Linked DNA regions of Homo sapiens. The protein of the gene in region 3 purifies or fractionates together with the protein of the main gene of each other region. This does not show direct contact. Each region holds a gene or a part of one and is shown on either strand. Other genes may lie near its edges.

What was found. Proteins that work in one complex are often made in the same cells at the same time.
Region 1: the proteins of CZIB (region 3) and TNRC6B purify together in Homo sapiens (affinity purification with mass spectrometry; one large-scale study listed by BioGRID and IntAct). This does not show direct contact.
Region 2: the proteins of CZIB (region 3) and ERI3 purify together in Homo sapiens (affinity purification with mass spectrometry; one large-scale study listed by BioGRID and IntAct). This does not show direct contact.

What each region holds. Positions count from the first base shown.
Region 1 is NC_000022.11:40,264,033-40,269,179, forward strand, and holds part of TNRC6B (trinucleotide repeat-containing gene 6B protein), read left to right. Parts: intron 1-655; coding exon 656-3,004; intron 3,005-5,147.
Region 2 is NC_000001.11:44,341,003-44,346,149, forward strand, and holds part of ERI3 (ERI1 exoribonuclease 3), read right to left. Parts: intron 1-5,147.
Region 3 is NC_000001.11:53,211,963-53,217,645, forward strand, and holds the end of CZIB (CXXC motif containing zinc binding protein), read right to left. Parts: intron 4,898-5,683; coding exon 4,820-4,897; intron 4,095-4,819; coding exon 4,029-4,094; intron 2,775-4,028; coding exon 2,697-2,774; 3' UTR 2,137-2,696; downstream 1-2,136. Other genes in the region: CPT2 (carnitine O-palmitoyltransferase 2, mitochondrial isoform 1 precursor), read left to right, coding at 1,302-1,633.

The sequences.
Region 1 (5,147 bases), on a different chromosome or scaffold from region 3:
ATGACACTTGAATTGGGCCCAGAAGGATGAGTAAATTTCACTGTGTGAATTCAGCAGGAAAACACAGTAGGTGCCAACGTGAAATGGTGCCAGAGTGAGAAGGCACAAGTTGTGGAATGTCAAGTAGTATCGAATATTGACATCTACATAGGAGGTAGTAGAAGATAAGACTAGAAAAGTTGGTTGGTCCCAGGTCATGGAACATCTTGATGACATTCGAGGCCAAGGAGTTCAGCTTTATTCTTGTGCACTAAGGAACTGTTGAAGGTTCTCCATACAGCAGTGATATAATCAAAAGTGTGCTTTAGAAAGATTGCTCCAGCCAGGGGTGTTTAGAGTAGGTTGAAGATACAGAGCAAGTTTAGAGTGCCATTGCTATTGCCTTGTCCCAAGATACAAGAAGGCCCTTCTCTGTCAATAGGAATGGCAAAGGACGTAGCTTTGAGAGAGATGAAGTTAGACTTAACCGGTGTAACACAAGGCAAATGAAAAAAAAGAGATGACTAAGACAGTTGTGATACAAGCAACTGGGTTGAGAGAAACTGGCATGTGATCAGCTCTCCTAAGGGCAGAGCTCAAAGGAGAGCCCCTTTGAGGGATTAATGGGTAATGAATGCATTTGAAGCTGTGATTAATAAGATGATCTGTTCCCCAGACTCAACCCTTGGAGGTGCTGCTGCTTCAAATTATGCAAATTCCACTTGGGGCTCGGGAGCCTCCTCCAACAACGGCACCTCCCCCAACCCAATTCACATCTGGGACAAGGTGATTGTAGACGGGTCTGACATGGAAGAGTGGCCTTGTATTGCCAGCAAAGACACTGAATCTTCTTCCGAAAACACCACCGATAACAACAGTGCCTCGAACCCTGGCTCTGAGAAGAGCACTCTGCCAGGAAGCACCACTAGTAACAAAGGAAAAGGGAGCCAGTGCCAGTCTGCAAGTTCTGGGAACGAATGTAATCTTGGGGTCTGGAAATCTGACCCTAAGGCTAAATCTGTTCAATCTTCCAACTCTACTACAGAGAACAACAATGGACTAGGAAATTGGAGGAATGTGAGTGGTCAGGATAGAATTGGACCTGGCTCTGGCTTCAGCAACTTTAACCCAAATAGCAACCCATCTGCCTGGCCAGCACTGGTCCAAGAAGGAACTTCTAGGAAAGGGGCATTGGAAACAGATAATAGTAATTCCAGTGCACAGGTTAGCACAGTAGGTCAGACATCCAGGGAACAGCAGTCAAAGATGGAAAATGCGGGTGTTAATTTTGTTGTCTCTGGCAGAGAACAGGCTCAAATTCATAACACTGATGGACCAAAAAATGGAAACACTAACTCCTTGAACTTAAGTTCACCAAACCCCATGGAGAATAAGGGAATGCCCTTTGGAATGGGCTTGGGGAACACCTCCAGGAGCACTGATGCCCCTTCACAAAGCACTGGAGATCGAAAGACTGGGAGTGTTGGATCTTGGGGTGCAGCTAGGGGGCCTTCTGGAACTGACACAGTCTCTGGACAAAGCAATTCTGGAAACAATGGGAACAATGGAAAAGAGAGAGAGGACTCCTGGAAAGGAGCTTCTGTTCAGAAATCAACTGGGTCAAAAAATGACTCTTGGGACAACAATAACAGGTCTACGGGTGGGTCCTGGAACTTTGGCCCCCAGGACTCTAATGACAACAAATGGGGTGAAGGGAACAAAATGACATCTGGGGTCTCTCAGGGAGAATGGAAACAGCCGACTGGGTCTGATGAGTTGAAAATTGGAGAATGGAGTGGTCCAAACCAACCAAATTCTAGCACTGGAGCATGGGACAATCAAAAGGGCCACCCCCTCCCTGAAAACCAAGGCAATGCCCAGGCTCCCTGTTGGGGAAGATCTTCCAGCTCCACAGGAAGTGAAGTTGGAGGTCAAAGCACTGGAAGCAACCACAAAGCAGGAAGTAGTGACAGTCATAACTCTGGCCGTCGGTCGTACAGGCCCACACATCCTGATTGTCAGGCTGTCTTGCAGACTCTTTTGAGCCGAACTGATTTGGACCCCAGGGTGCTCTCAAACACTGGCTGGGGCCAAACTCAAATTAAGCAGGACACAGTGTGGGACATTGAAGAGGTGCCAAGGCCTGAGGGGAAATCTGACAAAGGAACTGAGGGGTGGGAGAGCGCTGCCACACAGACCAAGAACTCAGGGGGCTGGGGAGATGCACCCAGCCAAAGCAATCAAATGAAGTCTGGATGGGGGGAGCTCTCAGCCTCTACAGAGTGGAAAGACCCCAAGAACACAGGAGGCTGGAATGACTACAAGAACAACAACTCTTCCAACTGGGGAGGAGGACGACCTGATGAAAAGACACCTTCCTCTTGGAATGAGAATCCCAGCAAGGATCAGGGGTGGGGAGGTGGACGCCAGCCCAATCAAGGATGGTCTTCTGGAAAGAATGGTTGGGGGGAGGAAGTCGATCAGACAAAAAACAGCAATTGGGAAAGTTCTGCAAGTAAACCTGTGTCTGGGTGGGGTGAAGGAGGGCAGAATGAAATCGGGACTTGGGGTAATGGTGGCAATGCAAGCCTAGCTTCAAAAGGTGGGTGGGAGGATTGCAAAAGATCCCCAGCATGGAATGAGACGGGCCGACAGCCCAATTCCTGGAATAAACAACACCAACAGCAGCAGCCCCCACAGCAGCCGCCGCCACCACAACCAGAGGCTTCTGGTTCGTGGGGAGGCCCACCCCCACCACCTCCAGGCAACGTTCGACCTTCCAATTCCAGCTGGAGCAGCGGGCCACAGCCTGCAACACCTAAGGATGAGGAACCCAGTGGTTGGGAAGAGCCATCCCCACAGTCAATTAGTCGGAAAATGGACATTGATGATGGCACTTCAGCATGGGGAGACCCTAACAGTTATAACTACAAGAATGTGAATCTGTGGGATAAGAATTCCCAAGGGGGCCCAGCACCTCGAGAACCAAACCTGCCCACCCCAATGACCAGTAAATCGGCATCAGGTAAGCAGTGGCTTTCTCTTGCAGCTTTTGATGAAGAAAAGGAATCCTAGACCAAGGCATTTTTATTAGGTGAATTTATTCAACTTAGTTTTGTTCTGAGATGCTTTCCTACAGTTTCTACTCTGTTGCTAACAGAACCTCTTTTTATGAAATGCTAGTGATGGCAGATGCTGGTAGTACATTTTAATGTTCTTTCTTGGCAAAAGGAAAAGATGACAACCCTGTGTTAGTCCCCAAAATTATTTTTCTGTAATTGTATTGGTCTGCAGAATCCAAAAGACATATCTTGCCAAACAAACTATGTTCTAGATTTTAAAATAAAGAATTAAAGTAGTAGCAGAAATAGACCTGATTTCCATTCTGGTTCTACCCATGGACATGTCTCTGCTTCTGTTTCCCCAGCAAAGGGAAATAATTCTGTGTTTTTCCAAAGGCCATGATGATGCTGAAGCAAAGCTGGATCTGGAAGGTTTCAGTCTCTTTCTGGATGATTTTTAATGATTACCTCTGGAATGGGAGTACTTTGTATAAGAGATTGTTATCTCAGTCCTAGTGAGATGGCTCACACCTGTAATCCCAGCACTATGGGAGACTAGGGCAGGAGGATCCCTTGAGCCCAGGAGTTTGAGACCAGCCTGGGCAACCTAGAGAGACTTCAGTCTCTACAAAAATATTTTTTAAAAATCAGACGGGTGTGGTGCATGTGCATATAGTCCCACCTACTCTAGAGGCTGAGGTAAGAGGATCGCCTAAGCCCTGGAGATGGGAGGCTGTAGGGAGCTATGATCTCACCACTGCACTCCAGTTTGGGAGACAGAGCGAGACCCTGTTGCCAAAAAAAAAAGAGCGATTGTTAGGATAGTCAGTTGCCCAGAATTAAACTTTCTTCCGTCACTATTTGAATAGGAAACATCATACCTGGTAAAAGTAGCAATGGTAATGCCATTCTTAGTTTGTCATTGTCAACTTGAATGTCCCTATAGAGCATATAGTTCAACAAATTAAGGGGGATGCACCTTTCAGTCTTTTTTTAGTTAAAATTAATATTAAGAACCAGTTTTCTTTTTTTGAGACAGAGTCTCACTCTGTTGCCCAGGCTGGAGTGCAGTGGCACGATCTCGGCTCGCTATAACCTCCGTGCCAAGTTCAAGTGATTCTCTTGCCTCAGCCTCCTGAGTAGTTGGGATTACAGGCACCCACTGCCATGCCCAGCTAATGTTTGTATTTTTAGTAGAGACAGGATTTCACCATGTTGGCCAGGGTGGTCTCAGACTCCTGACCTCAGGTGATCCACCCGCCTCAGTCTACCAAAGTGCTGGGATTACAGGCATGAGCCACTGTGCCCAGCCAAGAATCAGTTTTCTCCGAGTACACCTCTAGTGTTCAGCTAATCCATTTGTGGCCTCTTAGAAAAATGATTACTTTTAACTCATTCTTTTTTCAAGTATTGAAAAGAATGAGGAAGGAAATGAAGATTTCTCACTGGCTCCCCATGCAGAATAAAACCTGCTAAAATTTTAAAAAGCTACATCCACATAGCAAAAACCTTCAAACTGTGTGGAAAAGCAAAAGATAGTCAATAAAATAATCTTTGGCCAGGCGCGGTGGCTCACGCCTGTAATCCCAGCACTTTGGGAGGCCGAGGCGGACAGATCATGAGGTCAGGAGATCGAGACCATCTTGGCTAACACGGTGAAACCCCGCCTCTACTAAAAAATCGAAAAAATTAGCCAGGCGTGGTGGCGGGCACCTGTAGTCCCAGCTACTCGGGAGGCTGAGGCAGGAGAATGGGGTGAACCCAGGAGATGGAGCTTGCAAGTGAGCTGAGATCACGCCACTGCACTCCAGCCTGGGCGACAGAGCAAGACTCCGTCTCAAAAAATAATAATAATAATAATAATAATAATAATCTTAACCCCTAGGGTCTCTTCCCAAAGGTAATCTCTTAGAAGTTTGTGTCCCATTCAAAAATTTTACAGAGAAGGGATTGTACTTCGTATACTGTTCTTCACCTTGCTTTTCTCATTATACTTATAGCTTCCAATTTTAGCACATAGTCTGCTGCTTAATTGCTTCATATACAGTATTTCTTTTTTTTTTTTTTTTTTTTTTTTTTTGAGAGGGAGTCTCACTGTCTCCCAGG
Region 2 (5,147 bases), 8.9 Mb from region 3:
GTCCCTCAAGGACTTAGACTCTTCTCTAACCCCATAAAAAAGTGTAAAGACTTCTGAAAGTCCTAATGTTCTACAGTGTGCACAGAATATGCGTAGTATATACAGTCAGTCAATCCTGTCTACCAAATACTATAAGCAATTAAGCATGATGAGTAAGGAGGGCTTCCAAGTTTGAATCCTAGCTTTACCACTTACTACCCATGGCACCTTGGGCATGCTGTGTTCTTCAATTCCTCATCTGTAAAATGACAATAACAATAGCACCTACTCCTTAAGTGAGAACAAAATGAGACAACACATGTAAAGCACTAAGACCAGTGCCTGGCATATAACAGCCTAATATATATTATCCTAATGTTATTACTACTATCCTATTGGGCTATGCCCACCTGGCCAAGCCTGGATCCCCAGATTCTGGGCCTACAAATCCAATTAATTCATAAGGCAGCCTCAGAGAGTAATATCGATGTCTTCTGCAACCCTAAAATGCTCCAGACCTCTGACAGAGCATACTATATATACCCTATTCTGATGGCCAGTGGTCCTCTTGCCTGCAGGCCTTGCTTTCTCACCTGATTTCATCTACATCAAAAAGCTTCTTTTGGCCAAGCACAGTGACTGCACCTGTAATCCCAGCACTGTGGGAGGCTGAGGCAGAAGTATTGCTTGAGCCCAGGAGTTCGAAACCAGCCTGGGAAACATAGTGAGACCCAATCTCTACAAAAAATAAATTAAAAATTAGCCAGGCGGGGTGCTGCATGCCTGTAGTCCCAGCTACTTGGTAGGCTGAAGTAGGAAGATCACTTGAGCCCAGGAGGTTGAGGCTACAGTGAGCTGTGATGGAGCCACTGCACTCCAGTCTGGGTGACAGAGCAAGACCATAATTCAAAAACAAAACAAAACAAAACAAAACAAAAAAACTTCTCTCGTAGGAAGTCTTGAGAGTAGACATTAGGAGGTCAGGCCTCCACATATCAGCAGTTACTGGATTCCACACTTCCCTTACTTCTAACAACCAAGCTCAGTTCAAGTCAAGAAACAGAGGGTAGCTCTTCCTCTTCCCTTCCTGAAAAACTCAATCCTAAAGCCATTAGGTGCAGCAGAAGAGGGCAGATATCTACAACGGGTGGAGTAGGGTGAGCCAGAGAGGTCTGGGGGACACTGTCAGAGCCCAGGCAGGGTGAGGAAGACATCCTTGCAGAAGTGGGAAGGTGTGGTGCAGCATGTCAGAGCCGAGGGGGATGTGGAGAGCATCCATGTCGGCTGGCAGTCTGATGTGGGGTGACACACGCAGGGTAAAAGAGGCACTCATGAAGGGTAAAGGGCAGTGGCAGTAATGAGGATTAGCTACCTACAGAGGAACTGATCAAAGAAGTGCATATATTAAGCATAATGGGACCCAGGTTTCTCACTGTTAAGAGAAAGGAGTTAAAATATGGAAAGGGAGAAAATCTGTGGTGTTGGATTGGAATTGGCAGGAAGAATGTGAACTCATGGTTTCTGATTAGATGTGTATCAGATAGATAGATGGATACACACACACACACAAATATACACACATATGCATATATATTTTCTAGCTCTATTTAAGGAAGAGCCAGGGAGCAGTAACAATGGCAATGAGCACACCTAGCACTCCATTGCCTTCTTGTTTTTTTTTTGAAGACAGGGTCTTGCTCTGTTGCCCAGGCTGCAGTGCAGCGGCACAATCATAGCTCACTGCAGCCTCGAACTCCCACGCTCAAGCAATCTTCCCACTTCAGCCTCCCAAGTAGCTTGGACCACAGGCATGTGCCACCACATCCAGCTAATATATATATATATATATATATATATATATATATATATATATATATTTTTTTTTTTTTTTTTTTTTTTTTTTTTTTGTAGAGATAAGAGTCTCACTACGTTGCCCAGGCTGGTCTTAAATTCCTAGGCTCAAATGTTCTTCCCACCTTGGCATCCCAAAGTGCTGGGATTACAGGCATGGGCCACAGCACCCAGCCCCAGTTGCCTTCTAAATACCATTCCCCACTAAAAGAAACAGAGGTCCTTAGAGAAATGGCTGATTCCAGGGATGCAGCAAGAGAAATACAAGATGAGCGCATAACATCTTGTATCAGAAAGCAAGGAAACACCCAAATAATGATGGGAACATACCAAAAGGATACAGAAGCCACCCACTGGCCAAGAAACAATGATAGTAATGGATTATAATGCACTGAATAGAAAACCATGAGTCCATAAAGATATAAATCAATAAAATTAAACTTTGATGTGAGATATTTACATAGTTTCAAAGTATCACCCCACAAAATACTTATTAATTACAACTAGTAGTAATTTTATGATGGAGAAGCCTGGCAGACATCACCTTAATCAAGTGATCAAAGTGAACATTATCAATAATGGGATAAATCAAAATCACACGACGAGAAGAACAAAGCATCATTTCTGTTATATTCCTGAAGCTACACAACCTAAATCTAATCATGAGAAAATGTCACACAAACCCTAATTGAGAGACAATCTAAACAATAACCAGCCTGTAATCTTCAAAAGTATCAAGGTCATGAATGCCAAGGAACGTTTACTGAGGAAAGTCTAAAGGAGACTAGAGACTTGATAACCAAATGCAACCCACGATTCTGAACTGGATCACTTTGCTGCAAAGAACATTCCTAGGACAACTGGCAAAACTTTAATGGGGTCCAAGGTTTATATAGAGGTTTTATATCAATGTTAATTTCCTGATTTTGATGGTTGTATTTTGACTAGGTAGGAAAATGTCCTTGTTTATAGGAAATGCACACCAAGCATTCAGGGTGATGGGGCATTAGGTCGGCAACTTAACCCTCAAATGGTTCAGGGAAAAAATTCTTTCTACTGTACTTACAACTTTTATGTAAATTTGGGCTGTTTCAAACGTTTTTTTAAAATTGTTTTTTAAAATCAGCTGGGTGGGGTGGCTCACATCTGTAATCCCAGCACTCTGGGAGGCCAAGGCAGGCAGATCGCTTGAGGTCAGGAGTTCAAGACCAGCCTGGGCAACATGGCAAAACCCCATCTCTACTAAAAATACAAAAATTAGCCAGGCATGGTAGCACACCCCTGTAATCCAGTGACTCAGGGGGCTGAGGCAGGAGAATCGCTTGAACCTAGGAGGCAGGGTTTGCAGTGAACTGAGATCACATCACTACACTCCAGCCTGGGTGACAGAGACTCCATCTCAATAAATAAATAAATAAATAAATAAATAAATAAATAAATAAATAAAATTGTTTTTTAAAATCCATGTGCAATGTGGTTACAATTTTAAAATTAAAAATATCACACAGACAGTATTTGAAGAGACAGATCTCCCTGTAATGCCCACAGAAGGTAGGCTGCATGTTCTCTCTGGTAGAGAGGCTCAAAGCATCTCTCAGCCCAAACAGTATCTCTATCCAGCCGAGTTTCCATCAGAAGAGCCCCTACTCAATGCCCACTTCACTGGCACTCCTGCTACCATACAGCCTTCTCAGGAAACACACCTGCTCCCTGCAGCAGCATCCCACTTGCCCTTGCACCCTCCGGTGTCTTAGGGATTTCTCTTTTCTATTGATGTCTTTATGTTTTAGTCACAAATTTGCAGGCTATAAGTCTATAGCTTATAATATCAACTGGGACTTTGAGTATCTAAATGAGGGCCAGAACTCAAAAGAAAGTTTATGATTCTGCCTATTTCTGCAAACTATCTTTCATCAGAGACTAAGATTTATACACATTTATTCTCAGACATCCTTTTCCGTCTCCTAGCAAATTAAAGGTATTAAGTAGCCCATGGCAAGGAGGAAAATGAATGATTCTCTCCTCAATATGAAGGGCCCAGGTCCCCAGTGGGGACAGGGGAGGGGTAAATGGGACTGCCACGGGGCCAGCCCGATTTGGAGAAGCAGGCCTGCGCCAGAGCCCCTGGAGGATGGTCTCTGTGCAGAGTATTTACACAACAGACACCAATGGCTCCTCTGCAGCCATTACTGTCTATCAGGTAAATAACACATGTGCCAAAACACACATTTAATGAGGGAAATAATATGCCTTTATAAAAAGACTCAATCTGTATTTACCTGAGAGACCAAAGAAGCACCAAATCACCAGATTAGAGGAACCACAGAGGAGTCGTTCTGGTGTCTTGGGTAAATAGACATTTTATAGCCTCCATTACTGGAGGGGTGAGCAGAGGGGGTCAACCTTTAACATCCACACACACAGGCCAAGGGAGTCCTCAGGATGGGAAAACAAGAGGAGGCCACTGTGAAACAGGTGGTCTACTCCCACTTCCACCTCCCCAGCCACATGTACTTGGGATCTCTGGGATGGTGTATGTTTATACCACCCCTGGATTCAATTCATTCCATTAAAAGCCAGACTAGGAGGCAGGGATACATCCAAGTAACTCCAAGTTACCTGCAACAGGTTCTGAGTCCAGCTGACTGAAAGCACCTAGGAATACAACAATCATAGCTTCCTCAGTTCTCAGTCCTGGTGTAAGTCCCCAACCCAATCTGACCTGCAGTATCACAAGTGCTCAGGCACCTGAGTCACAGAAACAACAACAAAAAACACAGTAATACCTGTCTGGAACTCAGTCACTGGCTTTGTCTCAAGCAGCTAAAAATAGCCTGGGAAAAAATACAAATAAACTGCATCCCTTCAAAAGTCATAATCTTCAATCTAATGAATATATCCTTACTGCCAGAGCACTCTCTGTGTGAAAAACAAACTGTCAAAGGTGAAAGAAAACCTAAGAGGCAACACAGTCCAACCAGCCAGGGAAAATGAGATTAGAAAGAGAAAAGGACTGCCCAAGGTTCACACTGCAAGAAATAGTAAGAATAGAACCCAGGCTCTCAACTCCAAGGCCAGGGTCTCAGGCTACTGCTCCAACACAAGGAAAAGGCCTCACTAGTCATTTCCCAAGCTATGCAGTCTCACAGAAGAGGCCAAGAGCCTGAGGACTCTGTCTAGTTTGTTGAAGGCTAGAGGTTGAAGACAAAACAAAGCTTGACATGCCCTGGAAGCTCCACATGGTCCCAATGCGGAAAGGAAGCAGGAACTCTAAAACTGAGTCCTCACCTCAACAAAACAGTCTCCTCTTCTCTACA
Region 3 (5,683 bases):
GCTCACTGCAACCTCAACTTCCTTGGCTCAAACAATCCTCCTGCCTCAGCCTCCCAAATAGCTGGGACTATAGGCATGCACCACCATGCCCAGCTGATATTTTAATTTTTTTTTTTTTTTGAGATGGACTCTTGCTCTGTTGCCCAGGCTGGAGTGCAGTGGCACAATCTCAGCTCACTGCAACCTCTGCCTCCTGGGTTCAAGCGATTCTCCTGCCTCAGCCTCCTGAGTAGTTGGGACTACAGGCTTATGCCACCATGCCCAGCTAATTTTTATATTTTCAATAGAGACGGGGTTTCACTATGTTGGCCAGGTTGGTCTCAAACTCCTGACCTCATGATCTACCCGCCTCACCCTCCCAAAGTGCTGGGATTATAGGCGTAAGCCACCATGCCGGGCCTAATTTTTAAAATTTTTTGTAGAGATGAGGTCCCACTGTATTGCCCAAGGTGGTCTCAAACTCCTGGGCTCAAGCAATCCTCCTGCCTTGGCCTCCCAAAGCACTAGGATTATAGGCATGCACCACTGCACCCAACCTTTTTCTATTACTGATTGGTTATCAGACTCACTTTTGAAAATTTAGGATTTCTAAACTTACGGCCCCACTAGCTTCACCTCAGTTGTAATGTGTCTGCTCTCTGTAAACAGGTTATCTCAGAAGCTCTTCTCAATTGTCATCCGTCATTACCTTTTTTTGATAAAATTCAAGACCTGGAAAGGACCTGGAGGGTCATAGTTGTCCTTTCATGTTGCTATGAAGTGCTGGAAGTGAAAGGGACCTCCAAGACATTCTAATCTTCTCTTCCTCCATTTTATAGGGAGAAAACCAAGCCACTGGCCCCGTTACACAGCAAGTTAGTAGTAAGACTGAGATTCGAACCCTGGTCAAACAGACTTTCCATTTTGTTCCACTGACTCAATCTTCTCTTTTACACTTGAATCAGACTTTTAGTTTTATTGTAGTTTTTGAGTCCATAGCTGTCTTCCTGTACTGTCTTGACTCTTTGACTAAACTGATTTCACATCTTTAAAATTATGCTTTCCTTTTAGGCTCATTTTTAGCTCAGCTGTTGACAGCTATTTTTAAATGTAACATGACATAATATATTTCCTAAATAATTTAAAATAATCTAGCTTGAGCTGCTCTGAAGGTTAGTCAGTTGGTGGTGTGCATAGAGGTAGAGCCTTCCCCCACTCTCAAGGATGCTGTGAGGGGTATTCCTACCATGTGGTGAGTTGGGAGGTTTTCCTGAGGTCCTTTTCCATCCTGAGACTCTGGTTTTCCATTTTGTTTCTCACAGGCCAGGGCTTTGACCGACACTTGTTTGCTCTGCGGCATCTGGCAGCAGCCAAAGGGATCATCTTGCCTGAGCTCTACCTGGACCCTGCATACGGGCAGATAAACCACAATGTCCTGTCCACGAGCACACTGAGCAGCCCAGCAGTGAACCTTGGGGGCTTTGCCCCTGTGGTCTCTGATGGCTTTGGTGTTGGGTATGCTGTTCATGACAACTGGATAGGCTGCAATGTCTCTTCCTACCCAGGCCGCAATGCCCGGGAGTTTCTCCAATGTGTGGAGAAGGCCTTAGAAGACATGTTTGATGCCTTAGAAGGCAAATCCATCAAAAGTTAACTTCTGGGCAGATGAAAAGCTACCATCACTTCCTCATCATGAAAACTGGGAGGCCGGGCATGGTGGCTCATGCCTGTAATCCCAGCATTTTGAGAGGCTGAGGCGGGTGGATCACTTGAGGTCAGGAGTTTGAGACCAACCTGGCCAACATGGTGAAACCTTGTCTCTACTAAAAATACAAAAATTAGCTGGGTGTGGTGGCATGTGCCTATAATCCCAGCTACTTGGGAGGTTGAAGCAGAATTGCTTGAACCCAGGAGGTGGAGGTTGCAGTGAGCTGAGATCACACCACTGCACTCCGGCCTGGGCGACAGAGCGAGACTGTCTCAAAAAAACAAAAAAGAAAAAAAAACTGGGGCCTGTGTAGCCAGTGGGTGCTATTCTGTGAAACTAATCATAAGCTGCCTAGGCAGCCAGCTACAGGCTTGAGCTTTAAATTCATGGTTTTAAAGCTAAACGTAATTTCCACTTGGGACTAGATCACAACTGAAGATAACAAGAGATTTAAGTTTTAAGGGCATTTAATCAGGAGGAAAGGTTTGGAAAACTAACTCAGGTGTATTTATTGTTTAAGCAGAAATAAAGTTTAATTTTTGCTTGAAGATGGTTCTTAATTTCTTTTAACCTAATTCCTAATCCTCACAAAGATCTTTCCAACAGCAAGTTCAGTAAGTTCAGGTAACAGTACGTCACCATTGGCTTCTGGCTCATTGAGTGATGGTGGGATCGCGGTTTCATCTCTGTAAACTTGCCCTTGACTGGGGAGATACCATCTCCTTAAAAATACTCTTCATTTTCCTAAGGAGTGAACTGCTGCTGCACGAATTCTTATTTGTGGAGGGAGTAGCTGCCTCCTTACTTCACCTTCATGCACCAGTGCAGCGTGAACAGGGGCTTTATTGATGGGGCTTGGGAAGCTGTAATAAAGTCCAGCATGCAGATTGTGAAGGTTTCGTATAGCCACCAGGAGACAAGGGTCAAAGGAACGAGCCTCTGTGGGCTCTGCTGCTTAGAGTACTTTGTCCTTTCTCAGTTCTTAAGGGCAACTGGGAAGGAAGAGGGATCAGCACTTCACAAACTGGTGGGTGACCTCATAGATTCCCACAGACTCCTGGGCCTTTTCATCATAGTCAGTCCAGTCCTGGGAAACAAAATGGCATTGTTAGCCTCACAACGCAGAATGCAGCCATGTGGAGAGCAGAAAACTGGGACTTAAAAGGCCCAGCTCAGGCTCTGACTCAAATAATCATGAACATGTATGACCCTGAACAGAGCCAGATAGCTCAGGCCTGAATTCTAGCTCTTTCAGTTGTATGACTGTGGGCAAATCACTTAACTTCTCTGAGTCCCTTCTCCGAGTCCTGTCTTCTATTTAAAAAAAACAAAAACAAAAAAAGGACAATGGAGTTCATATTGAATGTTGAAAGAATCAAATGAGGTAACACATTTAAAAGCACTCAGCAGCCGGGCGTGGTGGCTCATGCCTGTAATCCCAGCACTTTGGGAGGCCAAGGCAGGTGGATCATTTCAGGTCAGGGGTCCGAGACCATCCTGGCCAACAAGGTGAAACCCGGTCTCTACTAAAAATACAAAAAATAGCCAGGAATGGTGGCAGGCGCCTGTAATCCCAGCTACTTGGGAGGCTGAGGTAGGAGGATCACTTGAGCCCAGGAGGCAGAGGTTGCAGTGAGCTGACATTGCACCACTGCACTCCAGCCTGGGCGACAGAGTGAGATTGTCTCAAAAAATACATAAAATAAAATAAAAGCACTCAGCATAGTGAGTGCCTGGCACATGTAAGAGCTCAGTAGATGCTAGCTGCTGTTATTAGGTGCTGAGCAAATGAAATGAAGTTTTTGTCCTTCCTTCAAGGCTTGAGCACAAGGCTTTTCTATCTGCAGGGTAGTAATATGTCCAGTAATACAGACTATTTCTTGTTCTTCATGGTAGTTAGGTGCAGTAAAGCCACCACAAACACTGAATTAGGGAATACTGAATGAATACTCCCCGGGGAAATACAGGGTTAGGTTCCTATGAGCCTCTGGTCACATTTTCATCAACCAATCAATAATCTAGCTTTATGTGTTTCTGTTTAAAGATAACTTATTTAATATATATTGTTGATTCATGAACTCACAGCCAGCAGCACTATAGCTCATGCCTGAATAAAGCTTATCTAACACGTATTCTCTCTGTAAGGGGCATCATAGCTTTCTCATACGTAGGAACATTAGAAAGCACTTTAGCACTATACCTGTGGCCATTTCAACAGCAAAATCACTAACAAAAAGCACAAAAATACAGAGTTGGCTTTCCATTGATGAGCCTTGTCCACCAAAAAAATAATTCCCACCAGGTGCCCTACAGTACCTCCCAAAGCCCCCAAGTCTCATACCTTCTCCTGCAGATTAATGTCACTGAAGGCTGTCCCTGACTCCACACCTTCAGCAGCAAACCCAGCCTGCAGGGCACAAGAAGGTACCAGTTAGTCTTGGCAAAAGAAGGCATTGGGCTATAAGTAAGGGCCGGCCAGGCTGCTGGCTCTTCTCACACTTCTGGGATGGAGGACAGAGATGCAGTATGAGTACCTGTCTTGGAATAACTGCTGAGCTTCCAGGACCCGGCAGCTGCCTCAGAACTAGAGTGGTGGTTTCTCTGAATTACAGCCTTGGACCAGAAGGCAGCAGGGGCAGCGTAATCCCTTCCACTAGCCCTGGTTTGCTGAAGGCTCCTGGGCATGTCATTTCCCAGGTTGGACCTTAGTTATTGATAAAACGGGGATGAAGTATTTGCTCTTCTGCCTACCTCACAGATTTGTTGTGAGGTGAAACATGCACAAATAAAGGGGGATGAGCACCAGCTCAAGTCAGATAGATCTGGGTTGAAACTATAGCTCCACTGCTTACTGTGTGACCCTGAGCAAGTTGCAAAATCTCTTCAGTTCCTTCCTCATCTGAAGAACAGGATGAATAAATTCATAGGGTTACCATAAGAATTAAATGTGGTAACATGTAAAAATGATGGCATGGGTGCCCAAGCATACAGCAGCCACTTAAGGGACAATTATTACTACCGCTAGAAAGGAGAATGTCTAGTCCATGGTATCTGTAGGTAGCACAGTTCTGGCTGTCACTTCATACATCCCCTCCCCAAAGACAAAGATTCCCCAGAAAGATACACACACACCTGCGGCTGGAAATCAACTGGTTCAAGGCCCCGGCACTCAAACTCCACTATTGTCTTGAAGTTCTCATTGTCTTCAGCCTAGAAAGGAAGTGTGTTGAGGAGGCAGGCCCAAATGAGCTCTCAGGATGACCCCATGGCCCCTCTCCTTCCTGCCAAATGGGCACTTACTGCCCCTGGAGGCCTAGTATGAGACCCAGGAAGAACTCATCCCCTTCTTAGAGGAAGCCTGCCTTGGGCACCTGCTCCCTATGAAGCTTTCTGTAGACAGCAGACATGGAGGCTGCAGAAGAGCGTGGATGCTGGGGTCAACCTGCCTGGATGTAAGGTAAGCTCTGCCTATCTTCCCCTCTGGGCCCAAGATTCCTAAACTGTCAAATAGAGCCGAGGAAACCTCTACAATTTTACTGTCAGATTTTGAAATGCATATAAAGTGCCCAGCACAGTGCTCAATAAATAGTAAATAAAATTATCAACACCAAAAATATGAACAAGAATGTTAAGCTCCAAAGTCTCTAGATCATCCAAACAGACCCAGTACACTTAACCATAGCCTTTTGCTGACCATCTGCCATGCAGTAAGGGCAGAGGGCTGTCTTATAGCCTTTGAAATGGTTATGTATGTGGAGGGGGCACCTCTTGGGGGGCAGGTGGCCAGGAAATTCATGCCTACCTGACCTATGGGCTTAGGGACCACAAGTGCCATGCCCTACATTCAGTCTCATCCTGTCATTCACTGTAAAGTAATTTCCTGCACACTGACCACATCTCTGGCACTGGTAAGGCACTTCTCTGTTAGGGCCCTAGTTCGATTCTTGTTTTTTGTATTTTCCACTAGATTATTATGTACGTGAAGGCGAGTCCTCA